Homo sapiens: one gene and its partners. The protein of the gene in region 1 purifies or fractionates together with the protein of each later gene. This does not show direct contact. Each region holds a gene or a part of one and is shown in the gene's direction. Other genes may lie near its edges. The genes, in order: SERPINB13, C1orf198, ROR1 and TTC4.

Region 1 (7,945 bases):
AAAGAAAATTATAAAAATAAAAAATTATACCTGGATTTTCAACTGTGAGGGGGGTTGGCATCGCTAACCCCGTGTTGTTTAGGGGTAAACTGAAGTTTAGTTTTGTCTGCTTTTGTACTTTGTATAAAAAGAATCATACAGTATGCGTTCTTTTACATTTGGCTTCTTTTGTTCAAAATATTGTTTGAGATATTTATCTTTTTTTTTTTTTTTTTTTTTTGCCTGTAGCTTTAGTTCATTCATTGTCATTGCTGTGTAGGATTTCACTGTGTGAACATACCATTATTTACGTGTTATGCTGTTAATGTACATTTGGGTTTCCAGTACTTGGCTATTATGAATGCTGCTATGGGCACATGTCTCTTGGTGCCCATGAGCACACATTTATATTGGGTAAATATCTGGGGTGAAATTATTAGGTCATGGGGTGTATCTATATATATCCAACTTTGGATATATATGTATCTCCAACTTTGATAGTGTTTTTTGATTAATAAAAGCTTTTAAATTTTGTGTTGTCCAGTTTGTTAATTTTTACTCTTACTGTAAATGCTTTTTTGTGTTTCAATTAGCTCTGTGATCCATTTAGAATGGAAATCTGTATATGGTGTGACGTAGTAGTTAAGATTCCTTTCTCCCCCATGTAATTATCCAATGAACTGAACATAATTTATTGAAGAGACCATTCTTTCTCCACTGCTCTGCAACAAGCTTGAACAAAATCAAGGTGCACACGAGCATCAGTATTTTTCTGGGCTTCTGTTCTGATCTATCCTTTGCCAAAAACCATTCTGACAATTAATAATAAACCTTGCTATCTGACAGAGCAGGTATTATCTCTTCCTCCTTCTCTTTCAACAGTGTCATGGCTGTTGTTAGCCCTTGGCTATTTCATATAAATTTGGAATCAGCTGGCCAATTTTTTGAAAAAATGAGCTTCCTGAGATTTTGATTGAGATTGCAGTGATTAATTTTGAGAAAATTGACATCCTTACAATATTGAGTCTTTTAAATCACAAATAAAATATACCCCTCTATTTACTCAGTCTTCTTAATTTCTCTAAATTATGTTTAATCTTTTTCTATATGGAGTCTTAAACATCTTTCATATTTACTAGTTACGTGATGCTTTTTTCATTATCTTAAAACAATTGACATAAAATTATATGTATTTATCACATACAAGGTGTTTTGAAGTATAGAACATTGCATAATGACCAAATCTAGCTAATTAACATAGTATTACCTCACATACCTTATTATTATTATTATTTTTGAGATGGAGTCTGGCTCTGTCGCCCTGGCTGGAGTGCAGTGGTGCTATCTCGGCTCACTGCAACCTCCACTTCTTTGGTTCATGCAATTCTCCTGCCTCAGCCTCCCGAGTAGCTGGGATTACAGGTGCATGCCATCACGTCCAGCTAATTTTTGTATTTTCAGTAGAGACGGGGTTTTGCTATGTTGGCCAGACTGGTCTCTAACTCCTGAACCCAGCTGATCTGCCAGCCTCGGCCTCCCAAAGTGCTGGATTACAGGTATGAGCCACCATGCCCAGCCTCACATAGCTTTTTTATACTCTTTTAAATAATATATTAAAAATGTTTCTAACTGTGTGTTGCTAGTATATTAAAAACACTTGAGTTTTTATATTGACCTTGTAGTCAGCAATCTTGCTAAACTCACTTTTTAATTCTCATAACATTTACCTCAATTCCTCTGTGAATGATTCTATTTTTCTTTTTAAATTATCTTACCTTTTAAATAATTATCTAATTCATCAGTTAATTAATTGCTTTATTGCACTTGTCAGGGTCTCTGGTTCAATTTTGAGTGGAAGCAGCGGCGGTGAACATGCTTGTTTTGTTTTTCATCACAAAGAGAAAACTGGTTCTCTCTCTCCTTTGTCTCTCTCCCCGTGATTTCTTTCTATTAACTATTGAAGGACATGTAAGATGATCATACCGCTTGCTCATTATGTAAAGATGAAAAATTTTCCCATTTAACATATTAATTCTAAAGAGTCCCGATCTAAACCCCAAAAGTGTTTTTCATAGGTCTTGATAAACTAATTAAAAATTTTATCTAAAGAGAATATATGCAAGGTTGCAAATAAATTTTTGGAAAGCAAAAATAATGAGGGCTTGGGCTAGATATCACAACACTTTTGTCATAGGTGAGGCACCCTAGAAGCAGAGCTAAAGACAGGGATTTTTCAGGTAATTTTTGGGAAAAGCGTGATGGGGAGCATGCTTGTTTGAAAGAAGCAGAACAAGGCAAGGGGAAATGTTAATCATGTGGTTTCTGCTAAAGACTGGCTTCAGTCTAATCTTGTGGGGGAGGTCTGGAGGAGAAGTGGCACTATAAAGTTAGTCTTACTCAGGCAGCTGTCTTTTTTTTTCTTTTTCTTTTTTTTTTTTTTTTGAGGTGGAGTTTCGCTCTTGCTGCCCAGGCTGGAGTGCAATGGCGTGATCTCAGCTCACTCCAAACCCCACCTCCTGGGTTCCAGCGATTCTCTTGCCCCACCCTCCTGAGTAACTGGGATTACAGACATGTGCCACCACGCCCGGCTAATTTTTGTATTTTCAGTAGAGACAGGGTTTCACCATGTTGGTCAGGCTGGTCTTGAACTCTTGACCTTAGGTGATCCACCCGCCTTGCCTCCTTAAGTGCTGGGATTACAAACGTGAGCCACCGCGCCCAGCCAGGGGCTGTCTTTTTATGCCCTTATGCCAGTGAGTCATGCCTGAGGTGTGCCCTGGCACGGGGGATGGAGTGGTACCTGGCTTCCCCCGTAGGCAGCTCTCTTTTAGCCGAGAAAAGGGCATCTGTGAATTATAAGGGAAAACAACAACTGGGTAACAGGCATGCTGGTAGGTTAAGGAAATCTGGTGGGAACATCGGCAGCATCCACTACGAGATTACATGCTTGGAGAAGAAAAATATTACAAGTCAGTATCAGTAACAGACACACAGAAGTTGGAACAAAACTATGAGCTATGGAACAGGGTTGGGAACCTATCAATACTCTGCTTCAGGGGATAACTTTCTTCTCCTCACTTGTTAGCATAGAAATCATTTTTTAAATGGTTCTTAATCATCAACATATATTCCACCTCTGGGGCAGTTTTGATCCTAGAAAGAAGAGATGGATAAAACAGAACAGGGAGGAGTCCTGTGATAAGAGGTTGGGAAGGCGTTGAAAATTAGGTTTAGAGAGAATAAGGATGAGAATCTGTCACCAGATGGAGGTGCTTGAGTGTTAAACAAGAGCAGTTCCTGGTGTGAGTGGGCCACTATAAAAGAGGGAAGGTGAAGGTCCGAGAAGTGAGAGGCGCTGGCAACAGGAATGGTGAAGTGGTACAGGGTGGCGGTAGCAGCTGGGGTGGACAGGAAGACCATATGCAGAGTCACGGAGGGACCTGTGGTTGGGGACAGAGCAGCACAGCGTGATGGTCTAAGTTTCCAAAGGGGAGCATTGAAGGTGACTGAAGGAAGAAAGACTTGGAAGAAGAGGGAGTGCGAGGGAGAATAGGAATGGTGACTTTGCTTTCCCAAGATATGAGTGGCCGTTCCCAGAAAAGACTATGGGATGTAGTAGTCCTCAGGACATGCCAGGTTTCCCGGTGAAAGCAGGTGGTAGAGCAAAAGCTTTAGCAAAAAGCAGAAGGCCTGTGGAAATGGCTGGGCAATAGAACAGGAAGTCTAGGGGCCACAGAGAAAGAAATAAGAAGATATAAATGGATAGGGATATTAAAACATAAAGCATTATGGCCGACTCAGAGATTTTATGCCATTTTAAAAAACTAACATTTCCATTTCACTGGCATCCAGGGTTCACTAAGTGTTAATTCTTTCTAAACCTTACTCAATTTGCAAGATTCTCAGTGCCTATTAAAAAGCAAATCAACTAAATGTGGCTTTGAGTTTGCTTAAAGAGCAGCAATCAAAATATTTTGAAAAAAGTAAATTGTGAGTATGGAGATTGGAACACACATGACCCATATGCCCTTCGAGCCTGCGTATCTAGGGAGGTGTTCCTCTAGGCAGAAGGAAGAGCTAAGACACCCTTCTAGGAGCTGCTGCCCAGCAACGATGGCAAATCTCCACGCCCTTTACTGAAGATTAAAGCTAAGACTAATCCAAGCACAGTTTCTTTTAATGAACTGGTAGGGCCAGTAGAAATGCTCCAGGGTTGGCAGGAAAAACTGGAATCTGGGGGTGTAATTTCCTATTGAGTTTTTTTGGTAGTGTTGTTTTCCTGAAATCAGTGAGGATATTGAGTGCTTATGAATTATTGGCATTAGACACAGTACCTGGTACATAATAGACTTGATAAATGTTTATTGAATGAATTAAAATGAGATATTTTACAATTAATGGATGGAATACTTGAGAATAATAGGTGTGTGTGTGTATGTGTGTGTGCGTGTGTGTGTGTGCGCATGCTCGCTTGTGTGTGGCTGCCTACCCAAACTTTTCTTGTTCTTTTTTCTTGTTCCTTTGTAGCAAGATAGTTTTCTTTCATTTTCTTCCTGGCATTTGGCACTCCTAAATAATGCAAATGCAAAAATAACTCTGTTACAGAGAATGACTTGTCAGGACACAGCTCTGTCCATCTGTGGTAAGTAAAGTATGCATTTAATGTATGTGTTCATCAGGCTATACACCTTTGGTTCCCAGCGTTGGCTGTACATTGTAATCACCTGCGGTGATAAAAATTCTGATGCCTGGTTTCCACTCGAGAGATGCTGACTCAGTTGGTCTGGGGTGGGGCTTGGGCATAGATTTTTTTTAAAGTTCCAAGGAGATTTTAAGGTGCACGCAAGGTGGAAAACCACTGCTGAAGCAGATGTGGAGAACTATAAATTAAGGATCCCAGCTACTTAATTGACTTATGCTTCCTAGTTCGTTGCCCAGCCACCACCGTCTCTCCAAAAACCCGAGGTAAGTTCTTATTTTGGCTCCAATTTAAGACCTCTGTATTTTGAGAACAATGATGTTTGTTGTTTGAAAGAATTACTTTTATTTTGCATAGACTTTCTGGAGGTAGTTTTATTTAATTCAGTTCCAACATGGCCATGACAATGTATCTTCTTTGACAGTAAATTAATCCATTTTATTTCTGAGTTAACCTGTAAAGGATCTCTGCAAGGAAACCTGAGGTTGAAATGAAAGCTTTGATATCAGATGTGGGATGCCTTAGCGGGGATGAGCCCTTGAGGGCAAAAGGCCCCAAAGTATGTGGGCTTTAAAAAACTTTATTTTTCATTAATCTTATTCTTGTTTTAGGATTCCTCCTAAAGCCTTTACTTACTAGTTTTAAAGTAGTTGGTAATGAAGCAAACATAAAAACAGTTCTACCTATTTATTTTTGGCAAATATTAATTGCTCTTTAAAAACTATTTTTGTGAAATGACAAAAGTAATGCAAGCTCATGTACAAGCCTAAAACAATACAGAAAAGTATAAAAAAGAAAACCCTTTCATCTCCACCTAATAATTCATGACCAGAGATATGTGGTTTCTGCTTCAGAAAAATTCAGCCCAGAGTCAAGTTTGTATGCAGTTAGGGAAAGGGGTTTAAGAGATTTAATCAATCCTGTCACTCTCTGGGCTGAATTTTGAATCAATTGAGAAATAGTATCAGATAAGGATTCAAGTCTCGGCTTAATTATTGCTAAGGTTGGATCTGAGAGCACTGTTTGAACTTGAGGCCCGTGGAGATTCTTGTGCCTACCCCCCTGCCTTATCATGGGCCCCACATCTGGACAAACTGGTGTCGCCTGGACAAGGGCTGGGTCTACCTGGGGAAGCTTCCATGAAGAGGAGGCTGTGGAGAGGCAGAGACAGGCAGGGTCAGACAGAGAGCAAGAGAATAAAGCCATTAAAACATTAACCCTGCTCCGCGGGGAAATAAGAACTGAGCACCACCGGATGACGGAAGACTCCAGTAGATTGATGGATGTCTCCCAGCAAGAGAAGGCCAAGAGAGGACGTGAGAAGCAGGCAGCAGCGACCTTTCACCAAAAGGGTGGAAATCCCTGTATTCCGGATCGATGCAAGAAGAGGAATAGAAGCAGAAAGGATTCCCCTGACACAGAGTAATTCAAATGTTCAGTTTTGATTGTTGTTCTTGCTATTCTAGGTCTCGCTAAAATCATCATGGATTCACTTGGCGCCGTCAGCACTCGACTTGGGTTTGATCTTTTCAAAGAGCTGAAGAAAACAAATGATGGCAACATCTTCTTTTCCCCTGTGGGCATCTTGACTGCAATTGGCATGGTCCTCCTGGGGACCCGAGGAGCCACCGCTTCCCAGTTGGAGGAGGTTGGGCGCAGTCAGGGGGCTTCCTTGTTTCCTATGCACAAATTCATTTGGCGGGGGGGTTGTCAGCCCTCTTGCATTATCTTAAAAATACGCTCTTCTTGACCTGTGGACCAGGAAACAGAGACTTTCAAGACAAGGAGCAATTTCAGGTCTATCAGGAAAGCCCTCTTCCTTTTCCAAATACCATCTCGCCACCTGCTCCCAGATGCTTGAAATTTTTTTGAGTAGAGACTGGTTGCGTAACCTTGTCCAAGTACTTATGGAAAAAGTGACATAATCCCCACAAGGGTAAAAATGACACATCCAAGATGAACACAGGAACACATAAGCCAATACGAGTTCCTTAGAAAAAAATTAGAGGTATTTTTAGTAAAGAAGGGGATTCACCATGTTGGCCAGGCTAGTCTTGAACTCCTGACCTCAGGTGATCCACACGCCTTGGCCTCCCAAAGTGCTGGGATTACAGGCATGAGCTTAGCTGGGTGTGGTGGCAGGTGCTTATAATCCCAGCTACTCGGAAGGCTGAGGCAGAAGAATCGCTTGAATCCAGGAACAGAGGTTTCAGTGAGCCAAGATCATGCCACTTCACTCCAACCTGGCCAAAAGAGCAAAACTCCATCACACACACACACACACACACACACACACACACACACACGAAAAATCAGAGGTAAACGCAGACCTTTTTCTGATTTTGCAAGGAGATAATGTCACCTCATATACCACCGAGGTTTCTTTCAGAAGCGTCCACTCTCCCCTGACTGATTCTGTGTGAGGTTTTCTCTTCTCTGAGCACCACAGTAATATTTTCTATCTCTTCCAGGTGTTTCACTCTGAAAAAGAGACGAAGAGCTCAAGAATAAAGGCTGAAGAAAAAGAGGTGGTAAGAATAAAGGCTGAAGGAAAAGAGGTGGGGAGATGTGTTTTACAAACTTCAGTAGAGTTGCATTTTAGGTGTGGGGTCTCTGGGGAAAAGGACTGAGAAAGGCATGAAAGCAATATTGTTGCTTTACTATTAAGCAATAATAATCACCATAGACAAATATTGTTGTAAGGATTATACAATAATAATAACCCCTTAATATTGAGAAGAGACCTTAGGTGTAATGGACAATACCGCTATGATAGAACTGGTAAAGGCTAATAGACAGAAAAGTTCCCATAGCAGAGTGGATGGGTTTTGGAGTTAAACAGACTTAGGTCCAAGTCCTGGCTCAGTCACTTAAGAGCGATGCTACTTTGGGCAAGTTATTTATCTTCTTTCAGCCTCTGTAAAGTCCGCAGTAGGGGCATCTGGCAACTGAGCCAGTGGTGGTGGTGGTAGTAGCAGTAGGTGATATTATTGCTAAACTCCACTCATATTTTTAACCCCGTGCTGATGTTGTATTTAAAAAATTATTACAGGCCCAATGACTTCCTGAGGTCTTTTCCAGCTCCAGTGTTCCTGTATTCGCCATCCAAAGGAGAGTCTACTCAAATATGGGAAAGGAATAAGCCCATTAGGTCGGGGCTAGGATCAGACGTTAGCACTCTCAGGAAGGGCACAGCTGCTCTGACAGTAGTCATAGTGCAATTCCAGACCCTCATAAAACCATGGCTCAGATCACCCAGCAATAGGA
Region 2 (7,249 bases), on another chromosome or scaffold:
ATGCTGATCACAGATCTTGGTGGTTTTGAATGTGGTCAGGGGCTCAGTTCACTCACTGAAGTTCCGTGTGCATCTGACAGGTGTGGCATCTGTGTGTGTGTTTTCATCCTCATCCCTTGGCCTGAGGCCCAGATGGCCCCTTGCCTTGATGACTTAACCTGGTTCTCCTCAGGGAAGGAGGCTGCTGCCTTTGAGTATTGAAGCCGTGAAGGGACCTATCAGTCTTTAGGTTCTTGCTTCCTTGGAAATCAACAGAGCAAATATTTCTCAAGGCCCATTATATTAGAGACAAGGCATTTTAGCTTAGGGTACTTCATCCTCCCATAATCTTTACCAACTCCTTTAAAAATCCCCACGTGTGAACATATGATCTCAGTAAAAAAGCATGGAAGTATAGCTTCAACCTAGGCCCCGGCCCCTTCCCACAGCCACCCAACCCCATTTTGTGGAGAATCTGGAGCTGCTGCTGGAAGAACGCTTCTCAACCAGCAAAAGGAGAGGAGCCGGTGGAGCCCCATGTCCTGGATTCTTGTCCTGGCCATGCCAGCAGCAAGGTGCCACCCCTCTTAAGGGGTAGTTTGCCTCTCTGTGAAGTCTGGTGGCAGAACCAATGGCTCACAGAGTTTCTTTCCAACTCGCTGGTCTGGCTTGGAGCAGGCCCAGACACTGGGGCCGTGCACTTTGGGTCCAGTATTTTGGTAAGAACATTAAGGCAGGTTTGCAAATGGATGCTTTTGACAGTCTTTCACCCACGCTGCTTGATTGCCACGTTCTTCCTCCAGCAGTAGGGTTTCGGGAATGGCTTAGTTTGGGAGGGGAAAAGTTTTTATTTTAGAGGGATCACCCTGTTTGCTTCTGCTGTTTCCTGTTATCTGCAAGGAGAAAACCCCACACACCTCTGAATTGTTAGGAATGTGTTCCTCCCTGCTCCTGCCCCCAATCTTCTTGTCACTGATCTAGCAAGATCTGAGTACATGGTGAGAGTTACAGGGTTCTGCGTTCTGTGATACATTCTTGGCTCCAGATGGGCCCTAAGCAGATGACTGGGGGAGCTTTGGCAGCTGGTGCGTCTTGTTCGCGTGGACCTACTTGCCTCTTCCATCTCTCCATACGGTGGAGCTGGGCAAGAAGGGTGTTTCAATATCCCTAATCGGGGTTTCACATGTTGTGGAACGTGGATTTTTAAAGAACCCGGAGCCAGACAGCTCTGTCCCCTCTTCAACAGCTTGGCATGATCCACTGCCGTGTCCCTCCAGTGCCTTCATCTCTGCTCCTCCTACAGGAACCTGAGGACTTGCTGTTGCTCTCTTATTCCTCTTGGCCTTAGCTTCCTTTTCTGAAGCTGTTTTTGCCTCCCTATGTCTGCTGCATTGCCTGTGGCTTCTTAGTCCTTAGGCTAGAGGCGGCTATGGGTACCTATGTTTAGCAAACTGCTGAGCTGCTACACCCGCTCTGTGTCATTAGGGCTACCTGCAAAAGACCTTTCTGCAAACCTAGGGGCCTGTGTGCTGGCCAGCCTAGAGGTTTGCTTTCTAAAATAAACCAATTTATTACAAAAGTTTTTACCTGTACATTATTGTTAAAAGTTTCAAACCAGGCAGAAGGAGCATTATAAAACAGCTGGTAGAATCAATCGCTTCAGAACTTTCTTGAGCCTTACATCTTTGTTAGATTTGAGTTTGGCTGCTGTGTGGCCTCTCAATGCAGGACCAATGACACATGAAGTTTCCTCATCCCCTTTCCCTTTAGTAGACTGGCCTTTTCTTTTTGAAATCTGACATTAAAAAAATAAAATAAAAATAAAAAAAAGGAAAAAGAAAATTAGGGAGTTGCTTTCTCAGCATTTTGGACTCATTTTTTAAGGAAGGTGGATGTTTGAATTATGATTCCCACCTTGTGCCTGCTGTATCCATGGATGTTTTAGAAAGGATAGCAGGGTTTTCTGAGTCCCTCTACCTGGGGCCCTGGGCAGGAGTTGAGATGGCCCTGCTTCAATTCCAGTTCCACGGGCTGAGAGGAGAGGGCGGTCGGGCCTGTTCTGTGAGCTTCCCTTTTATGTTGTGGGTTCTCTGCCCTGAGTAGCACGTGGCCTGCTGCCCTGGGAGCTCAGGCAGCAGCTTAGGCCTCTCCTCCCCAGGCACCTCTGCCTGCTGGCTCCTGTGGGAGGGTGGCCCAGTGGCAGCCAGGGAACAGGTTTAGCAAAGAAATGAAGTGACTTGGTCACAGACCTGCGGGGAGGGAGGGCAGGAAGCATGGCGACAGGTGTGGAGTCATCTTTTAATTGATAAGAGTCACTTTTACACTCTAAGCAAGGGATTCCCATAGTACTGGAGAAAATATCTATTTCTTCTTCTTCTTCTTCTGAATAAATGAAGGAAGATGAGACCTATTTGTTTAGACTTCCTGTCATATTTTGCTCATTTCTTTAGCATTTCCTCCACCTACTCTGTATCCTGTTTCCATTACCATGCTCATGCTGAGTTTTTGTTTTGCTGTAATCTATGGAGGCTTGAGTTTCTGGATTCGTATTCATGGTGGAAAACATGCCCCATGGTTAAATCAGGACTGTTTTTCTGTCTTTGCAACTGCAGTGTTGTATTTCCAGTTATGGAAACCCCCTTATCTCAGCAGAGTTAAAAATATTACAAGTCAAAGGGAAAAGCATGGATTCCATAAATATGTAAACAATGCTTGCTGAAAATAAGCAGTTGGTAAAAAAAGAACATATTTTAATCATTCTTCCTTACTCTCCTCTTTTTGAATAGACTTAATTTTTTAGAGCAATTTTAGATTCACAGCAAAATTGAGCAGAAGGTACAAAGTTCTCATTGCCTCTCTGGCTCCCACGCTACAGTGGTGCATTTGTGACAGCTGATGAACGTACATGGACACGTCGTTACCACCCAAAGTCCATAGTTTAGGGTTCACTCTTGGGTTGTCCACTGTATGGATCTTGACAAATGAATAATGACATGTACCCATCACTATAATATCACACAGAGGAGTTTCACTGCCCTAAAAATTCTCTGTGTTCCACTTACTTATCCTTCCATCCCCCCAACCCCTGGCAACCAACGATATTTTAACTGTCTCCATGGTTTTGCCTTTTCCAGAATGTAATATGGTTGGATTCATACAGTATGCAGCCTTTTGAGATGGGCTTCTTTCACTTAGTGATACTCATTTAAGGTACTTCCATGTCTTTGTATGGCTTGGTAGCTCATTTCTTTTTCTTGCTAAATAATGTTCCATTGTCTGGATGTATCACAGTTTACTTATCCAATAACTGAAACACATCTTGGTTGCTTCTAAGTTTTGGCAATTATGAGTAAAACATCTGTGTGTAGGTTTTTTGTGTGGACGTAAGTCTTCAGTTCATCTGGGTAAATGCCAAGGAATGTGATTACCTCACTCCTGTAATATATTTATTTGTGGAGGAATAAATATAGAAATAACTATAGCAGAAGCACAGTTGTGCATGGAGCTGTGGTTGGGAGGCCCTCAGTTGGTCAACATGTCCAGGGTGCTGTCATTATCAGTGACAACAACCAGTGTTGTCACTCGGTAATTAAACCTTACAGTTGATCCACAGGACAGGCTCTGGCATCTCTGAGGGAGTGATGGGCACGACACAGCTCACCAGGAACAACGTGTTCCACCCTGGATGAACCAAGATGGCCAGGCCACCTGGCATCACTACAGGGTGACACACTCTGCAACCTATGGGACTTTCTGTCCTGCTCACATGCTCTGCTCTCTAAGCCTTATTTCTCTAGCTTATAGAATTTCTCAGTTTACATTTCTTACCTTCAAGCCAAGATGCCACAGGTGTCAACCAGAAACTCTCCTTATTTATGGATTTCAGGAAGACGATGACCATTTCTGGCATCAATACGCGTGTTGCCGTGTTCCAAGATCCTGATGCTGTTTTAGAATCACCCCAGAAAGCCCCTCACTCCCCGCCTAGCTGTTTTTCCTGGAACAGCTTGTGGAGGCCCTAAGGGAGCCCCCATGCTGGACAGCTCCCTCTGCAGGCGCTATCCATCCACACACCAGAAACACTTGCAGAATGTGATGAATATCAGGATGTTTGTTATGGTTGTAGCCTGTGGTATGCTGGAGCCGGCTCTGGGGGAGTGAGGCGAACTAGCCCTGACTTCTAGCATTTGCTGGTTGCCATGACCAGATACTCCACCATGGCCCGTTGCACGCTGTTGGCGTGACTCACGGGATGCATATCTGGGCACCGCGCTATATGGTATTTCCACCTTACACATACAATGGATGCAAACAACCTTAAGACCATGGATAATAGTAACTGTATTGAAATGATGAGTTTCTAGTGTTTATTACTTTTTTTGGGGGGGGCACACTTTAAAAAAATTCAGTTTTTACAGTAGTTTTAGGTTCCAGCAAAATTGAGCGGAAAGTACAGAGAGTTCCCACACAGACCTTTCCCAAAATGTACACACAGACGTGCATATGCACACAGCCTTTCCCACCACCAACATCCTAAACCAGAGTGGTGCACTGATTACAATCAGTGAACCTGCATTGTTTTTATCATTGTCAACCGAAGTCTCTGGTTTACACTAGGGGTCGCTCTTGGAGGTATACGCCATGATGGTATCATACAGAGGGGATCCATTGCCTTAACAGAAATCCTCTGTGTGCCACCTGCTCATGCCTCCCGCCCCCCAGGCTCTGGCAGCCACTGATCTTTTTACTGTCTCTGTAGTTTTGCCTTTTCCAGAATATCATATAGCTGGAATCATACAATATGTAGCCTTTTTAGATTGGCTTCTTCCACTTAATAATATTCATTTGAGGTTCCTCCATGTCTTTCCATGACTTTTTATTGTGGTAAAATACATACAACATAAAATTTACCGTTTTAACCACTTTTCTGTGTATAGTCCGAGGCATTTAGTACAGTCTCAATGTTGTGCAATCATCACCACCATCCATTTCCAGAACTCGTGTATTATTTAAAGTGAAACTATATCCTTTAAACAATGAAACTCTGTATATATTAAACAATAACTCCCCATTTCCTGGCCTCAGTCTCTGATAACCTCTATTCTACTTTCTGTCTCTATGATTTTGCCTACTCTAGGTACCTTATATAAGTGGAATCACATGATTTTTATCCTTGTGTCTGGCTTAGTTCACTAAGCATAATGTCTTCAAGGTTCATCCATGTTGAAGCATGTATCAGAATTTCCTTCCTTTTTAAGACTGAATAATATTCCATTGGATGGATAGACCACATTTTGTTTATGCATTCATCATCTGTCAGTGGATACCTGGTTGCTTTCATCTTTTGGCTATTGTGAATGGCACAGCTATAAACATCGGGGTATAAGGATCTCTGAGCCCCTGCTTCCAGTTCTTTCGGGTGTATACCTAGGAATGAAATTGCTAGAACAAATGGTAATTGTATGTGTAATTTTTTGAGGAACTGCCGAACCGTTTTATATAATGGCTGCATCATTTACATTCCCACCAAGAGTGCACAAGGGTTCCAGTGCCTCCACATCCTACCAATACTTGCCAGTATCTGCTTTTTGATAGTAGCCATCCTTGTGGGTGTGAAGTATATTACCTTTATTTTTAATACAATGGACTTAATTGCAAGTTTGTATAATTCACCTTTTTAATCACAGCAGTTAAACAAGATATTTAACAACAGGTTCAAGAAATTCCTCAAAATTTTACAATCAGCTCTCGTTAGTTGGTGCAGGCCTGCTCCAACACACCTCTGGTTGCAGCCTTGCAGCCTCCAAAAATAAAAGTGTCTAGGAACCACAGAGTTCTTAAGCCCTCCAGTATCCATTTTTTTTATCAACAAGTAAAGAAGTAAACGCTGGCGATATGATGCAAACATGTATTCCAGCACTATGAGCAAAAAATATATGTTATTATTTTTAATTCTGTTTCATTTAGGATTTAGGAGGTGCACACTGAATTGAATGAACATTTCCCAGAGAAGAGCAAATACTCAAGGTCTCTGGGATGTTAGGGAAAAAGATTGTTTGTGTGTGTGTTTATCCCGGAGTCCTTGGAGCTGCGTGGGGACTGGCAGAGCCTCTTACATGTAGCGCTGGCCTCTGATAATTGCCAAGTGCTCTGTGTTTCTGGTGGCTTTCTATAGCTTCCCCCCTGCTTTTTGGCTTTCTGCTCTGGGATTTGGTGACCTGGGGCATCTTTCTGTTCTGCACTCCAAAGAAGTCATTGTTTCTGGAGAGATTCAGTGCTGCCCATTTGGTATGGATGCCTCTTACGGAATTTGACTCTGAGGATAAGTCCTGGCCAACAATGAAGCCCACTCTCTTGTCGTGTGGCCTAAGTAACAGATGTGTTTTGACACTTAGATGATTTCAGATCCTAGGCGCCAGAGAGGGGGGTGGGAAAGCCTTCCAAGCAGTCCTAGAAAAAGCATATGTGATTGGTCCAAAAGCATGTGCCTGGCCTCATTTTGGTTGCAGGCTGGTCACCATGGGAGTAGAAGAAAGGACAGCATTGTATGCGTGTGAGTGGGTGCCGCCACTTTGCAATTCTGATTCCATTTGCATCCAACAGCCCAGGGAGCCTGTTCTTGCCGCCAGTGCTTTTTTGTGGCTAGAGCGTGCAGTCCACGGCTGACATCAGAGCTTCCATCACATTTTTGTTTGGCATGTTTATTTTTGTTAAGCACTTTATTGTTTTTTATGAGCTCAGAATTACAGAAACCCAAGGAATCTGCCCCTTGACTTCATTTCTTGCTGGAGCAAACAGAAGACTATTGACTCGACACTAAGTAGGGGAGAAATCACAGTGTGACCCTTTCTCCTCCTGTGACCCCCTTGGAATTTCAGCTAATATGGGTTGCAGTCACTGGAGAGTTGACTGTCCCCAAGCTCTGGGCTAAGTCTTCGTTCCTCAGAGTGTTGTATTGAGCCACCTTCCAAAGCCAAAAGCCTTATTATTTTAATCTTTGCAGATTTCAAAGGGACTTAAGGTATATAATTAATATTTAGAATCATATCGAGTAACAGGGGAGTCCAGCTCCATCATGCCCCACCCTGGCCAGTCAGTGGTCCTGCCCTCTGCCTGCCCCGCAGGTGTTCATGCACTTCCTCTTTCCATTTGGGTGGCCAGTGGCCTGTCTGATTCTGGATGGAAGGAGCACCTTTGCCAGTTGATTTCCATTTACCTTTTTCGAAAGATCCAAAGCTGGATCTCTACTCTACCCTGTGGATGGCCGGTT
Region 3 (7,733 bases), on another chromosome or scaffold:
AACTCCTAGGCTCAAGAGATCCTCTCACCTTAGTCTCCCTAGTAGCTGGGATTATAGGCACAAGTCACCATGCCCAGCTCCCCAAACACTGTTTTGTGACTTTTGTATTCAAAGTATAAAGTACATTATTTTATACTAAAAATGACTTTATATGATTGGTTCTATTATCTGTCTCTCTCTCCTTTTAGCAGGTGAGAATGTTGTATCATAAAGAAATTAAACAACTTGTTCAGGTCATCTAGCCAGCTCCGTTTGATGTTAGAGTCCATTCTCTCTCTCTTTTTTTTTTTGAGATGGAGTCTCGCTCTGTCGCCCAGGCTGGAGTGCAGTGGTGCAATCTCGGCCTACTGCAAGCTCTTCCTCCTGGGTTTACACCATTCTCCTGCCTCAGCCTCCTAAGTAGCTGGGATTACAGGCACACACCACCATGCCTGGCTAATTTTTCTATTTTTTTGTTTTTAGTAGAGATGGGGTTTCACTATGTTGGTCAGGCAGGTCTCGAACTCCTGACCTCGTGATCCGCCTGCTTCGGCCTCCCAAAGTGCTGGGATTACAGGCGTGAGCCACTACGCCCAGCCCGAGTCCATTCTCTTAATCACTAACAATAGTAGCTAATAAATATTGGCTGCTTACTGTGTAACTGGTACTATGTTAAATTCTTTACAGGTATTAACTAATTTAATCTTCAGAACAAAGCTACAGGTAGGTATTATTATTATGCCTCTTTACAGATGAAGAAACTAAAATACAGGGACCCAGTACTCACAACTATTAAGAGCAGAGCAGGATTTGAATCCATGCAGTCTGGCTCCTGAACTCTTCCTGGTAAGCATCACACTACACCGTTTCTCCAAGAATAATTAATGGTTGTATTTGTTGGGTAAATCAAGCGGATGGCCCAAATGAGTCTCTCCCACCAGCAAGTTTTTGAAATGAAAGATAGTTTTCTATTTAATGCTCCCCTTGGCACCTGACCCCAATGATTTACTATTGCCCTGCTCTTGTTCCATTTTCCCACTATGCCTTACAGTGATAATAAACAGAACCGTGTGTGCCAGTGCAAGAGGCCAGGGGAGATGAGTGCCTCTGTAAGTAGCAGGAGCCTCAGCCAGTACCTCAGGTTGTGCCAGGCCCCTGGGAAGTGAGTAGCTTCACCTGGGTTCTCTTATCCATTTGTGTCAACTTCTGGCTTCCTAAAAGAGAGGGCATGGCCAAAAGAGGCTTGTGAGAGGAACATTTAGATTGCTTGGAGCTTTTATCATAGCCCACCAGGGGTTTGAGACAGTGGTGTATAGTGTAGAGAGATATTTGACTTGGGATGGAGTCCTGCCTTTTTGCTTTAATTTTTTGACTCTGGGCAAGTTTTAAAAACTCACTTCACTTAGCCCATTTGTTAAAAATGGGCTAAGACCAACCTTATTTTGATGATATAAGTAGGTTCATGCAGTAAATAATAATAACGATAATATCTGCCATTTATTAGGTGTCTCTCTGTGCCAGATACTCATAAAAGCACTTTCTAAGAGTTAACTCAATTAACACTAACCACAGCATGAAATAGGTGCTATTATTATCATCATCATTTTACAGGTGAGAAACAAAAGTACAGGCAACTAAGATATTTGTCCATAGTCACTCAGCAGAAACCAGAGAAGCTGAAGCTTGAGACCAAGCAGCCCAGCTCCCCAGCCTGTGCTCTTAAACATTGGCATTTACTGAACTTGCATAAATAAATAAATATACATATACACATATATATATTTTGCATATTATATATATTTTACCTCTTTTACTTTTTTAAACAGGAAAAGCCTTTTCTAACACCCCCCCACCCCAGCATTTTTTTTTTTTTTTTGAGATGGAGTCTTGCTCTGTTGCCCAGGCTAGAGTGCAGTGACGCTATATCCACTCACTGCAACCTCTGCCTCTCAGGCTCAAGTAATTCTCATGCCTCAGCCTCCCGAGTAGCAGGGATTACAGGTGTGTCACCACGTCTGGCTAATATTTTGTATTTTTTTGTAGAGATGGAGTTTCACCATGTTGGCCAGGACGGTCTCGAACTCCTGATCTCAAGCAATTCACCCACCTTGGCCTCCCAAAGTGTTGGGATTACAGGCATGAGCAACCGTGCCAGGCCATTGCTAACCTTTTCTTTGGAAACTTGTGTGCTATAGCTAAACTGAAGGAATCTGGGATGATTTGATGATGGTCCTTACCCAGGTCTGGACTGGTAGGTCTAGGTCCTAGTTTTGGCTCTGGCCAGCTTTGGGCAAGGCGGTTTCACTCTCCTAAGTCCCACATGTCTCCTGTATAAAATGTTGAGGGGGGTGTACTAGTTAATTTCCAAAGCCCTTTCCAGGTCTCACATTCCTTATGTCTATGATTCTGTGATTAAGTTCCTGGAAGTTTAAGTACTGATAAAAGTGCCATTAAGTTCTGTATACTCAGCACTAGCAGCTGTCTGTTACCTAAGATACCTGGGCCTAGGAGTTATAGGGTGGGGGCTGGGGGCAGGGTGGGTGGATGAGAAAGGCTCCTTGTCTGACAACTGTGTGTATTGACTGTAGACAACAGAGGACTGCCCAGCACTGTGCAGTGTAACTGAGTATCCTCTGATTTCTGGGCTGTGATATACTAAGACTGACCATCAAAGACTGTTTCCCAACAAGAGAACCTTGTGCAGTAAGTTCCTCAGGCAAGAAGCGAGATAATTGGGACAGGATTGAATAGATCTCAGGCAGAGAAACTTGGGGGACAGATCAATGTAGGTAATGAACTGGTTGACCCAAGGCCTCTCTGTCTATCATTTTTTGACCTCAGGTCAGAGCGATAGAAAGGGGGAAAACTACCGACACAGCTCCTGCCATGAAGTCCTGGAGAAGAATAAGTGACTGTTTGTCCCGCATGGGTTAGTCATTCACCTGCCTGAAGGCAAAGGGCTGGGAGTCTGGAGTCCATGACCTGCTGGGACATACTTTGGGCTGCATTTTTTCCCCCTTCTAATGTCTCAGCTCTCAGGGATCTGCTTTTCCTGGTGCCAAGGAGTATGGATGAAATTTTGTCCCTCCTCCATGCACCCCTATAAAACAAATATGATGAGAAATTAATATTTTCCAAATGGTGACCTAACCTTTGTTCATTAATTGAGCTCCTATTGCATTCCAGGTACTGTTAGAGGCCAGCAAGATACCTAGATGATTGAGACAGAGTCCTCGCCCTCCATGAAGTGACTGTTCATTTTAAAACCCTAAAGCTGGGTTCTTAGAGGCTACTGCAACAGCAACAACTCCCGAGTGAGTGCTTATCATGTGCCAGGCTCTGGTTACAGGCTTTAACTCTCTCAGTGGAAACAGCCTGAGTGCTGGCTTGGCTACCCCATGTCTGTGAGACTGTGGGCAAGTCATTTACTTTCCCTTTGAGTTTCAATTTCTAAAACTGTAATATGGGGATAATATATGTAAAACAGCTAAGAAGTATATACTTTTAATGACTCTTTTTAGTGTCAATGGAGGATTTGTGAGCAAATGCATATAAAACACAAGGCAAACAGGAGGTATTTAGTAAGTGGCCACGTGATTATTGAGAGACTATGGGCTTCTTCCTGTTCCTCCAGAGCAAGACTGACAGGTGTCCTATTACCCTTGCATCTTCAGAGCCTAGAGCACAGCCCTGAAAACAGCAGGCGCTCACCACTTTTTATGATCAAAGGCAGTCTCTACAGGGAAAGTCAAATCATTATGGGTATTTATGAATTACAAAATCCATAAAGTTAAACCAGGAGAAATGGACAAAAACACACTCATTGTAGAGGTCTTTAATGATCCCTTGGCTCATGGCAGAGCAGCTAGACAAAAAACAAACAAACAAACAAACATGCAAAGATTCAGAAGGCCTGAAAAAATAATGAATACAAAGAAGATAAATCGATACAGTATTCTATCTTCACATTCGGAAGACAAAAACACCTTTCAAAAAACCATGGGACATTGGCAAAAATAACCACAGATAATCCTCAATAAATCTTGCCAGGAGGCAGTACAGATGACATTGAATTCAGTGAGACTACAAATTAAAGACAAAAAGGCGAAGTATAAATTACTTGTGTAAGAACTCTCTCAACTCTTGGGTCCAAGAAGAAAGCAAAAGGGAAATTGTATGATAGCAATAAATGTGCCATTACCCAGAGTCACACAGCTAACAGTGACACAGCTGAGGCTGCTAGAACCTGGGTCTACTGTCGTCCAGCCACGAACTGGCTTGAGATCCCGGATAAGTCTCTCTGAGCCTCGGTTTCCCCTTCTGTCAAGTAGCCTCGAAGGTCCCCGGCGCTCGGTTCGGTGGCGAGTTTGAGGAGTGTGGGGGAGGGGAGGGGAGGGAGCGTGCCCGAGACGCGGGAGCCGCGACCGCTTTCTGCGAAGTCGGGGAGGGTGCGGGCGTTGAGAGGCTGCAGCAGAGGGCGCTGGGTCGCCAGCCTGGGCCGCGTCTCCCATTGGTCGGGGCTGGGGCGCTGGGCTGGAGAGTTGGTGGAAAGTGACAAGTTGAGCGAGAGAGGGAGCGTGGAGAGCTGGAGCAGCCGCCACCGCCGCCGCCGAGGGAGCCCCGGGACGGCAGCCCCTGGGCGCAGGGTGCGCTGTTCTCGGAGTCCGACCCAGGGCGACTCACGCCCACTGGTGCGACCCGGACAGCCTGGGACTGACCCGCCGGCCCAGGCGAGGCTGCAGCCAGAGGGCTGGGAAGGGATCGCGCTCGCGGCATCCAGAGGCGGCCAGGCGGAGGCGAGGGAGCAGGTTAGAGGGACAAAGAGCTTTGCAGACGTCCCCGGCGTCCTGCGAGCGCCAGCGGCCGGGACGAGGCGGCCGGGAGCCCGGGAAGAGCCCGTGGATGTTCTGCGCGCGGCCTGGGAGCCGCCGCCGCCGCCGCCTCAGCGAGAGGAGGAATGCACCGGCCGCGCCGCCGCGGGACGCGCCCGCCGCTCCTGGCGCTGCTGGCCGCGCTGCTGCTGGCCGCACGCGGGGCTGCTGCCCAAGGTAAGAGGCGCCCGCCGGCCCCCGCCCGCCCAGACCCCCTGACCCGTGGCCACCCTTCCGCCGTCCAGCCGGGCGCGGGACACGCAGGAAGCGCCGCGCTGGCTCCGGGGCGCGTCCGGCCACCCGCCACGGGGCTCGCCGGCGCCGCCAGGCCAGGGTTTGCCCCGGAGCCCCGCCAGGCCAGGGTTTGCCCCGGAGCCCCGCGGCGGGCCGGGGCGCGCCCAGGGACTCGTTCCTCGGTGCGCAGCAGCGATTGTCAGCGCTGACAGGAAGCGTGGAGGGGTTTGAGGGTCCTGGGGGTGATCGGGGCACTTCTGTGCAGGGCGTCCCCCCTTGTCTCCCTGGACCTCTAGCGCGCCCCAGCCGGTGTTCAGGCAAGTCTATCCTGCCCCCAAGTTGCGAGCCGGCCCGGAAGGCGCGGTCCAGGAGGGAGTTTGGATTTTCAGTGGTGCTCGCCAGAGCCCAGGCGGCTCGCGGATCGACGCAAACAAAAGCCCTGTCCTCCTGGGGCTCCGGCGGCCTCGCATCGCCACCGCCCCCGGCCCTCCGGCCCTCCCGAGAGTCATCATAGAGGCCAAAACTTGTGCGCCGCTGCAGCCGCTGCCACTTTGTGCAAAATGTGCTGTCAGAGGCGGCCTGCGGCTCCAAAGTGCTTTGGGTGTGCACGCGCGCGCGCGCGCGTGTGTGTGTGCGTGTTACAAACAAGAGGGGGAAAAGCCATCTAATGCATATTTGATTTTGGTAATCTCTAAAGACAATCGCAACAGTTAGAGAAAGACTTCACCGCAAGCCGGAGCGTCTTAGTTCGCTGCGGGAAGCTGGGGTCCTTGCTGCGTCTGAGCCGGTACACAATGAGAGGGAAGAGCCCGGCTGAGCCTGTGGAGACAACCGATTCATTCTTTGGAGGTTGGAGGGGGAAAGTTGATTAAAGTCTCCGGGGTCTCGGGCCTCACTTTTAACATGCATCCCTTGAGGGGGTGAGGAGCCTTTGGATTCTGCCCTCCCCCACTCCCAGCCCTAAACCTGAGCGGATAAATAGATCTCTGCTCTTTTATCATGCATCTTTCATTTTTAAGTTAGCACTGTGTTTAGGAAAAGAAAAAGTTCTGCGCTACTTAGCAGTTGAGAGGAAAAAGATGTATTCACTACATAGACTACGAATGCAGAATTAGTTTTTACTAAAAGTTAGCTGACTTTCTTGGTAGAAAACACACTCTGGAAGGAAGTTGTGTGAAATTTTGATTTCTTAGAGATGGTTTTTGGAAGCTAGAGTAGCATTTTCTGAGGATGATTTCTGAAACGGATCCTATAATGTGGTCGTGCTAATCTGAAAGCTCCTGGGGGTAAATAGAGCTCCTAATTGTAATTAAGATGTGCATCAGCAGGGAGTGCACCTTCCTGATGAAAAATCCTAATGAAATGTAAACAGCTTGGTCACATAGATGTTTTGCTTGGTGATGCCAAACATCTGGCCTTGCGCCACAACACCTGGGTGAAAAGTAAAAATGGGCCATGCTGCCTAAGTAATGTAAACATCCTTCTCAAGTTGGGTTGCCCAGCAAATTGAGGTGGAGATAAGCAGGGTGATTTTAACTAAGGTGGGACTCCTGGCTTGGGGCTTTGGTTAATTCAGTTATTTCCCCTGTGGACTCCTTTACTTTGTACTTCACCTTTCAACAATAGTTGCTTTTAGATCATAGCCCCTTGTGGGGGTGGGGGTCACTTACCTTTAAATACATGTCCCTGCATTGATTTTGCTCACTGTAAACACCCTTCTTATCAGCAGCCACCCCAATTCTGTCTCCTTTAACTGTTTACAGCCTTTTAGAGTTGTTTAAAAAAGGTATTGCCTATTCCATTGTAGCAGGAGGAGCCACAGACAAAACTCCTCAGACACCCAGTGAGCAATTCCTGTCCCTTTTAAGGGCTCACAACTCTAAGGGGGTCCACGTGAGAGGGTCATGATGGGTACATGACTGGGGGCTGCATGCACTGGTAATCAGAACGAAACAGAACAGGATAGGGATTTTTACACTGTCTTTCCATACAATGTCTGGAATCTATAGATAACATAACCAGTTATGTCAGGGGTCGATCTTTAAGTACCAGGCTTAGGTCAGGCAGGCCCAGGCCTGGTTTCGGGTCTGGTTCCTTGGTTTCAGGTCTGGTTCCTAGGTGCCGGGCTACCTGCCTTTAATTTCGCTTCTCTTTCCTTTTCTGAGTATAAAACAATATAAAACAATATGAGAGGGTCTGTCTCTCTTCTCTCACCATACTCTTTAGTAATGAGCTCAAATCTGTTATTATTGTCTTATTTGTTGTTTTATAAATCCCTTTCCATTTTGTGAATGTTTGATCTTTTCTCTGGGGTCAAGACTTCTGGTAGAACTCACGTTTACTTTCTCCTCTTGGACTCAAGATTCCTAAGGTAGCCCAGCCAGTGGCTCAGGAAATCAGCTTAAGCGGAGATATGTTTCATGTATTTATTTAAAAAGATACAAAACATTTCTCCCATCATTTTTCTATTTTGTTAGCCAGGAGAAGAAAACCTTTAAATTTATTTTTTCTGGTCTGTCCATTGTTGATTTCTCATCTACCCCCTCCCTATGCAAAGCTCAACTTCTTTAGGAACCTGAAGCTTACCTTATAACTGCACCCAAGCCCAGGGCTTTAGGAACCTACCTGGCCTTTCTCAAAATCTTATAG
Region 4 (7,826 bases), on another chromosome or scaffold:
CATGCGGGCTTCAGCGTCCAGAGGAGGTACATAGACCAGCAGGCGGTGAGGTGTCAGATAAGGCTTCTGAGGGAAGAAACTCCCCTGCAGGGGGTTTGGAAAGAACATGTATGGAAGGGAGCAGGACACATGGAACCAAGGAACAACTGCAGTCCTTCAGTGCACACAGCCCAGAGAGAGAGGGGAGAGGAGTTCCAGGCTAGAGCCACGGAAGCCTTGGAGGCTGTGTTAAGGAGGGAGACTTCATCCAGATAGGAGTGGTAAGGCATTGTGGGATGCTAAGCAGGGGAGGGATGTAGACAGATGCCTGCTTTAGAAGGCACCTCCTCCTGGGGATACAGGAACCCTCAGGCACTGCTGGTAAGATGGTAAATTGGTGCCGCTCTTCTGGAATCTGTAGAAATCTGTCATTATTCGGTCACTTCAGTCTTATTAAGTTCATGCATACCCACGACTGAGCAGTTCCACTCATGGATACATAGCTCGGGGGAATATTCCACAGGTCCATAAAGAGAGATGCATGAGGAAGTTGATCAGTGTTCTTTGTGGTGGTGGGGAGAGGAGGCAGCCTGGGTATCCACCCCTTGGGAGAGTATGTGTGCCGTGGAGCCCTGCACAGCAGTTCGGGGCTGCCAGATGGGACCTAAAACCCAGTGCTGAGGGGAAAAAGTGTATCAAGAATGTATACACAAAAGTTGGCCAGGCGCGGTGGCTTACTTCTGTAATGCCAGCACTTTGGGAGCCTGAAGCGGGTGGATCACCTGAGTCAGGAGTTCGAGACCAGCCTGACAAACATGGTTAAACCCCGTCTCTACTAGAAATACAAAATTAGCCAGGCGTGGTGGCGCATACCTGTAATCCCAGCTACTCAGGAGGCTGAGGCAGGAGAATCGCTTGAACCTGGGAGGCGGAGGTTGCAGTGAGCCAAGGTCGCGCCATTGCACTCCTGCCTAGGCAATAAGAGTGAAACTCCATCTCAAAAAAAAAAAAAAAAAAAAAAAAGAATGTACACACAAAAGAATTCACATTTTGGAAGAACACTTAGAAACTGAGAAGACACAGTAAACACACTAGAGGCCAGGTGTGGTGGCTCATGCCTGTAATCCCAACACTTTAAGAGGCCAAGGTGGGAGGATCACTTGAGGCCAGGAGTTCAAGACCAGCCTGGGCAACATAGTGAGACCTCCATCTCTATAAAACAAAACAAAAAAATGCTAATAAAACATGCTAGAATGATTGATTAGGGTAAGGAGGAGGGCTTTGGGGTATAAAAGGGAGTAAATAAAAAAGGAAGCAGAAGAAGCTCACTATGTCATGGAGTGAAAGGGCTGGATGGCAGGGTGGACAAGAGCACCATCAGGGAGACTTAGCCAGAAACTGCTGAGAGAACAGTGACCAGACCTTGCAGCACAAAATGGAGAGGATGGCCAGGCCTGCAGGAGACTGAGGAAGGGGATTTTCAGAGCCTAGTGGTTGACAGAATGGAGGAGGGAGGAGGGAGAGGGAGGAGCTGAGTTTGGCACCCAGATTTCTGGGTGGATGACTAAGCCAATGGAGCCCACACTAAGTGGTGAACCCAGGACCAGGAGCAGGTTGTGGGGCAGGGGATGAGTTCAATATGGGCATGGTAAGCTTGAGGGACTGTGCAGCAAGCTAGTGGAGATATCCACAGGGCAGTTGGCTGCCGCTGTGGTCTGAATGCTGTGTCCCTGCAAATTCATATGAAATCCGAACCCCCAAGGTCATTATATTAGGAGGTGGGGGCCTTTGAGAGGTGATTAGGGATTAGTGAATGGGATTAGTGCCCTTATAAAAAAGAGCCTTCAGAGAGCTCCCTCACTACTCACACCATGGGAGGACACTGAGAAGATGGCATCTGTGAACCAGAAAGCAGGCCCTCACCAGACACCGAATCTGCCAGGCCTTGATCTCGGACTTCCCAGCCTCCACAACTGTGAGAAATAAATGTTTGCTGTTTACACACCAGAGTTGATGGTATTCCGTTATAGCAGCCTGAATAGACTATGGCGGGCACAAAGGGACACGGGTGGAGCTCAGCTGAGGGACCTGAGAAGGAAGCAGATTTGGGATTCATCTGTGTGTAGGGGCTGGGGTACAATTTCCCTGGGAGAGTATGTAGAGTGGGCAGAGACATCAGCCTGTGGAGCACCTAACTTAAGCTCCTGTTGGGGGTGAGGAACCCATGATGTTGACCACACAATCATCTTCTAATAAATGGTAGCCCAGGCCATTGGTATTCTGGGCCTGAGAGAGAGAGTAGGAAATGGGGAGATTCATTTGCACAATCCTTTCCATCACTGAGAATGTTCACAAACATTGCCTCCTTGGAGTCTTACAGTAGCCCTGTGGATTATGGGGAAGGCAGAATGGATTATGGGGAAGGCAGACTGGATTATGGGGAAGGCAGACTGGATTATGGGGAAGGCAGACTGGATTATGGGGAAGGCAGACTGGCTTTATTGCCCACATTCCACAGATGAGGACACAGCTTAATGAGGGATGGGCCTTGCCCAAGGTCATGCAAGGTAACTAATGGAAGTGTAGGTCCCGAAGATCTCCAGACTCCTATACCTGAACCCTTCCACCCAGAACCACTTCTGCTTTCATGGGCTAGGACCCAGGTCTAGGGTGGCCTTGACAGATGACAGCTGCTATATTTTGGGTCTGGGTGGCCCCTAAGCACAGCAAAGGCTGATCGACTCAGTTATCGGCCAAGACCACTAAGTAGTTTTGAGTTGGAAGGTTCAGAGTGTGCTGGGCAAGTCACTTTGCTTCTCTTAGGTTCCCCTATTGTTACCTATAAAATGGGTTCATACCTCACAGTGTTCTTATGGGAATCAAATGAGAAAAAAAAGAAAGCAAAAAGACTCTGTAGGCTCTGGACTCAGTAAAGGAAAAGATGATGAAGAGGAGAATAAGGGAGGGAACCAGGATTAGGGAGCAGGGCTGGAGGAGGAAGTGTGGAAAAGGAGGTTTGGATTTGGAGGGAAGGGAGTGCTAGGACCAGATGTTCTGCTGGGTGTGGAAGAATCAGAAGGGAAAAGATAAAGTCCTGGCACTGGAAGGCTCATGGTCCCCATGCGCCATCCTTAGCCATGCTGTCTCCATCCCCATATCAAAGAATGACTACCCTGCCAGCTCCACTGCTGGGCTTCAGATCTCTGTCTTACCTTGGTCTCTTATCAGCATCCTCCTTGTCAATCTCTTAACCAACCTCCCCCCATCAATGCTTCACCTGGCAGCCCAGGCCTTCCTAAGACAAATGTGCTCACGGCCATTGCTCCTCTTAGGTCTTTTCAGTGACTCATTATCCTCTGCAGGACCAAGGTCAGTGAGGCAGGCAGGCCTTCTGGCCCCTACCCACTTGCCGGCCACACCTCTTTTTTTTTTTGAGGTGGAGTCTTGCTCTGTGGCCCAGGCTGGAGTGCAGTGGCGCAATCTCGGCTCACTGCAACCTCCACCTCCCGGATTCAAGCGATTCTCCTGCCCCAGCCTCCCCAGTAGCTGGGACTACAGGTGCGTGCCACCACGCCTGGCTAATTTTTTGTATTTTTAGTAGAGACGGGGTTTCACTGTGTTAGCCAGGATGGTCTCGAACTCCTGACCTCATGAACTGCCCGCCTCAGCCCCCCAAAGTGCTGGGATTACAGGCGTGAGCCACCGTGCCCGGCCCTGGACACACCTCTTAACACTTGCAGTACCCAGCATGGCGGGCCTGTGCACACCTCCATGCCTCTCTCCACATATGAGCTCCCACTGCCTAAAACGCTGAGTCCTCTATCCATCTGCAGAGACCTTCCTCAGCTCTGATCTCAGCTCTGCATCACCTTGAATCCCACCCCTCTGAGCCTTCACTGAGCAGACCTGTGACCCAATGCCAGTTTAGATTGGTGTGCTTCCTGTCTGCTTTTCATTCCAGACCAGGCTAGGAGCTCCCCAAGGCTGTAGCCCCGGTGCAGGGACCTGCAGCCATTTGCTGGCCGGTAGAGAGGCTGCAGGAAGCCACAGCGGCTGCCTAACCAGGCCTGCAGCACCTGGACCGAAGACCCTTTTCCATCTGAACTGTGGGAGTTAGGGGTGGCTAAGCTCAGAGACAGAGGTCTGATCAGTCTCTCCTTTCCTCGAAACTCTCCAAAAGGTCCCATACCACTGAGGAAATAGCCAAATCCTCATAGTCACAGCCCTTTTGTCCTCCCACCTCATCATCTCCTTGCCCCCTTCCTCACTCTGCTTCAGCCCCACTGGCCTCCTTGCTGTTCCCCAAGCACAGAAGACTCTCCCGCATCAGGCTTCCGGACTGTTCCCTGTTCCTTCCATGGGAATGCCTTTCCCAGACCCCTCCTAGTCACTCCCAGGCCTCTGGCAGAATGTCTACCCATCCTGTTTAAAACTTTTCCCCAATAGCTCTTGCTACCCCTGACAAACTCTTACATCTCAACTATTGTCGTTTCCTCCCCACTGCCTTAGCAACTCCTAGAGGGCAGAGATTTCATCTGCTCTGCCCACCGCTATATAGCCAGCCACTAGAACAGGCCGGAAGCGCAGAAAGAGCTAAGTAAGTATGTGTTGACTGACTGACGAACAAATGAATGAAGTGAGATGGGGGCTTTGGGGATTCGGGTTCACGCACCACCCCAAAAGCATTCGAAGGCCGGGCGAGGCCAGGCACTGCCGAGGAGGGCGGGCCGGGGGAGGAGCGTATTGGCCACGCCCGGCCACGCCCCCAGGCCGGCGGAACCCAAGGCGCGGGGACCTGCGCTGCCGGGAGGATTGAGGGAAGGGAACCCGCGCCGCCGGAAGGAGCCGCTCGCTTCACGGCGCTGGGACCCGGGCTGGAAGGCAGGGCATCAGCTATGGAACAACCTGGGCAGGATCCCACCTCAGACGACGTCATGGACTCGTTCCTGGAAAAGTTCCAGAGCCAGCCTTACCGTGGCGGCTTTCATGAGGACCAGTGGGAGAAGGTGGGCGGTCCTGGGGTCTCCCCACGTGTGTAGGGGCGTCGTCCGGACTCGTGGGGCACCCGGGCTCTGGGGCACCTCCTTCAATCCCAGATCCCTGGCGCTGCCAGCCGATCGCTGGTTTCTAGTTGAGTATTGAAAATCGGCCTCGAGGTTTTGAGTCGCTTCTTAAGCTGAGAACCTAGGTTTTGGAGTCAGGCCTGTGACTCCACCACTTAACTGGCTCTGATATGAGTCAGTTACTTAACTTCTCAGAGTCCGTTTCCTCATCTGTAAAACTGCGCGAACTATATCACCAATAGCAAAGATGAAATGAGACAGTTGGTAAAGTGCCAAGAACATAAGGGCGCTCAATTAATGGTAATTCCTGCCGCTCTTGTAGAATGTGAGAACTAAAACAATCATTAGAGACCATTACACCACACTCCCATTTTACAGAAGGGAAGCGGAGGCCTGAATGGATACAGCTAGCTGTGATGATTTGCAAATCATGATGAGTAAAAAAACTTTGGTAATGAGTCATGGAATTGGATCTGCTCAGTAGAAAAGCTTATTCATGTAGTTCATTCTTAACCATTTACAGGAATTTGAAAAGGTCCCCCTATTTATGTCGAGAGCGCCATCAGAAATTGATCCCAGGGAGAATCCTGACTTGGCTTGTCTCCAGTCAATTATTTTTGATGAGGAGCGTTCTCCAGAAGGTATCTTAACATGACTAATATTTGTTTTGTGTTTCCATTGAACTGAAATTAAGTGTGGGTTAGAAGCGTTCTGATTGATAACAAGAAGTAGTTAGCCTGAGCTAACTTGTCATTATTCATTCCAATATACTTCTTTTTGTACCTACTAAGTGGTAAGGACTGGGGATACAGGGGTGAATAAGACACAGTTCCACCCTCCAAGGTCAGGCTCAGTGAGAAGCCTTTTGTCTTAAAGAATCAAGACAAACTTATGCTATAAGTGTCAACATGTAGGTGTATACTACAGCTGTAGTGGGTCCTGTTGGAACACTTTAAGGAGCAGGAGTGGATTCACAATAGATAGGAAATTTGAGCTGAATCTTTGTAATTTTGTAGGCTTTTACTAGGGTGAGGAGGGGAATTTGCACTCCACAGAATAAACAACATAAGCAAAAGCAGAAGTATAATCAATCCCCCTGCCCCTCACTGATTTCTTCAGTGATTAAAAAAAATTCTTTTCTTCAACAGCTAGGATGAGTGTACTTTTTTCCTTTATACTTCTTTTTTTTGGAAAGCACTTAGTAATCTACCTTGTAAGATATTTGGAATTAGCATTACATTTGTGCGACTTTGTCCATGTTGATACCCACTTTTATCATAACATCGAGTTTCCTTTCCCTATTGGTTTCTTCGCTTTGGTGTGTCATATAGTACATTATTACATGATTTAGAATCTATTTTTAATGAGCCTTTTAAAAAGTAAGCAATAGTGATTATTTTTCCTCTTCTTTGCAGAACAGGCCAAGACCTATAAAGATGAGGGCAATGATTACTTTAAAGAAAAAGACTACAAGAAAGCTGTAATTTCATACACTGAAGGCTTAAAGAAGAAATGTGCAGATCCTGATTTGAATGCTGTCCTTTATACCAACCGGGCAGCAGCACAGTACTATCTGGGTAATTTATAAGTGCTTTCTGAAGAATAAACTTATGATACAAGCCATTATGATGGTTAGTGGAGGTTTGAGAACATCAGAGGATGAGGGGCTGTTATCCCAGAAACCCAGACTAAGGATAGTTTACTCTGATTGAACTCTGGTCTTCCAAGTTGACATGATGAAAAGAGAAACAGGATGGATTGTGTAATTCTTACTGTCTCAACCCAAAAAGTGACTTGGTCACTCAAGTAAGGTGTTTGATGTATGAGGCAGTATGTTCTGAGATTTTTGAGCCCAAGGGCTTCTACTCTCTCAAAAAATGTGTTTTTCTGGCCTTTTATCCTCTTTTCAAGGATGCTAGCAGGAGTAAGGCAGTAGAGATCTTTAGGTGAGATAAGCTATTTTAATCTAAGGGAGAATATCTCAAAGCGTTCTGTGGGACCTTTGAGTTAAAAATATTTTTTGGTTGGGTGCAGTGGCTCATACCTGTAATCCAAGCACTTTGGGAGGCTGAGACAGGAGGATCGCCTGAGGCCAGGAGTTCAAGACCAACCTGGGCAATATAGTGAGACCCTGTCTCTCCAAAAATTTAGCTGGGCATGGTGGTGCCTGCCTGTAGTCCTAGCTACTTGGGAGGCTGAGGCACGAGGATCGCTCAAGGCTACAGGGAGCCATAATCACACCACTGCACTCCAGCCTGGGTGACAAAGTGAGACCCTGTTTCTAAAAAGTTGCTTGGATGAGGAATTTTAACTCATTTATTTATTCATATTTTTTACTTTATTACATTTTTTTGTAGAGACAGGGTTTTGCCATGTTGCCCGGGCTGGTCTCGAAATTGGGCTCAAGTGATCCATCCGCCTCAGCCTCCCAAAGTATTGGAATTACAGGTGTGAGCCACCGCACCCAGGAGATTGAGGAAGTTTGGAAAATGCTGCTTCTTAGAGATTTACAGTACATGTTAACATGTTAAAGACACTGAGATAGCCTGCAAGAAAATAAATTTACCCTGGGTTTCTCAAATTTTGTAAGCCTCCTCTTCAGGTAACACCAACATCATGCAGGTTCTGTAGTCGTAAATTTGGGAAATGATTATTTAAGTAGTATTGCTGGTGACTAGTCTTGGTTATGTTAGACCTGTGGGTTTTTTTTAAAAATAATTTATTTTTTTAATTGAGACAGGGGTCTCGCTATGTTGCCCAGGCTGGCCTTGAACTCCTGAGCTC

Evidence for each region.
Region 2: the proteins of SERPINB13 (region 1) and C1orf198 purify together in Homo sapiens (co-immunoprecipitation; 3 studies listed by BioGRID and IntAct, with this or other methods). This does not show direct contact.
Region 3: the proteins of SERPINB13 (region 1) and ROR1 purify together in Homo sapiens (co-immunoprecipitation; 3 studies listed by BioGRID and IntAct, with this or other methods). This does not show direct contact.
Region 4: the proteins of SERPINB13 (region 1) and TTC4 purify together in Homo sapiens (co-immunoprecipitation; 3 studies listed by BioGRID and IntAct, with this or other methods). This does not show direct contact.

Annotation. Positions count from the first base shown.
Region 1 is NC_000018.10:63,582,507-63,590,451, forward strand, and holds the start of SERPINB13 (serpin B13), read left to right. Parts: upstream 1-4,836; 5' UTR 4,837-4,944; intron 4,945-6,144; 5' UTR 6,145-6,161; coding exon 6,162-6,326; intron 6,327-7,149; coding exon 7,150-7,209; coding exon of another isoform or gene 7,210-7,236; intron 7,237-7,945. UniProt on the Homo sapiens protein: May play a role in the proliferation or differentiation of keratinocytes.
Region 2 is NC_000001.11:230,858,515-230,865,763, reverse strand, and holds part of C1orf198 (uncharacterized protein C1orf198), read left to right. Parts: intron 1-7,249.
Region 3 is NC_000001.11:63,769,482-63,777,214, forward strand, and holds the start of ROR1 (inactive tyrosine-protein kinase transmembrane receptor ROR1 isoform 1 precursor), read left to right. Parts: upstream 1-4,535; 5' UTR 4,536-4,936; coding exon 4,937-5,027; intron 5,028-7,733. UniProt on the Homo sapiens protein: Has very low kinase activity in vitro and is unlikely to function as a tyrosine kinase in vivo. Receptor for ligand WNT5A which activate downstream NFkB signaling pathway and may result in the inhibition of WNT3A-mediated signaling.
Region 4 is NC_000001.11:54,711,035-54,718,860, forward strand, and holds the start of TTC4 (tetratricopeptide repeat protein 4), read left to right. Parts: upstream 1-4,826; 5' UTR 4,827-4,874; coding exon 4,875-4,985; intron 4,986-5,565; coding exon 5,566-5,683; intron 5,684-6,457; coding exon 6,458-6,619; intron 6,620-7,826.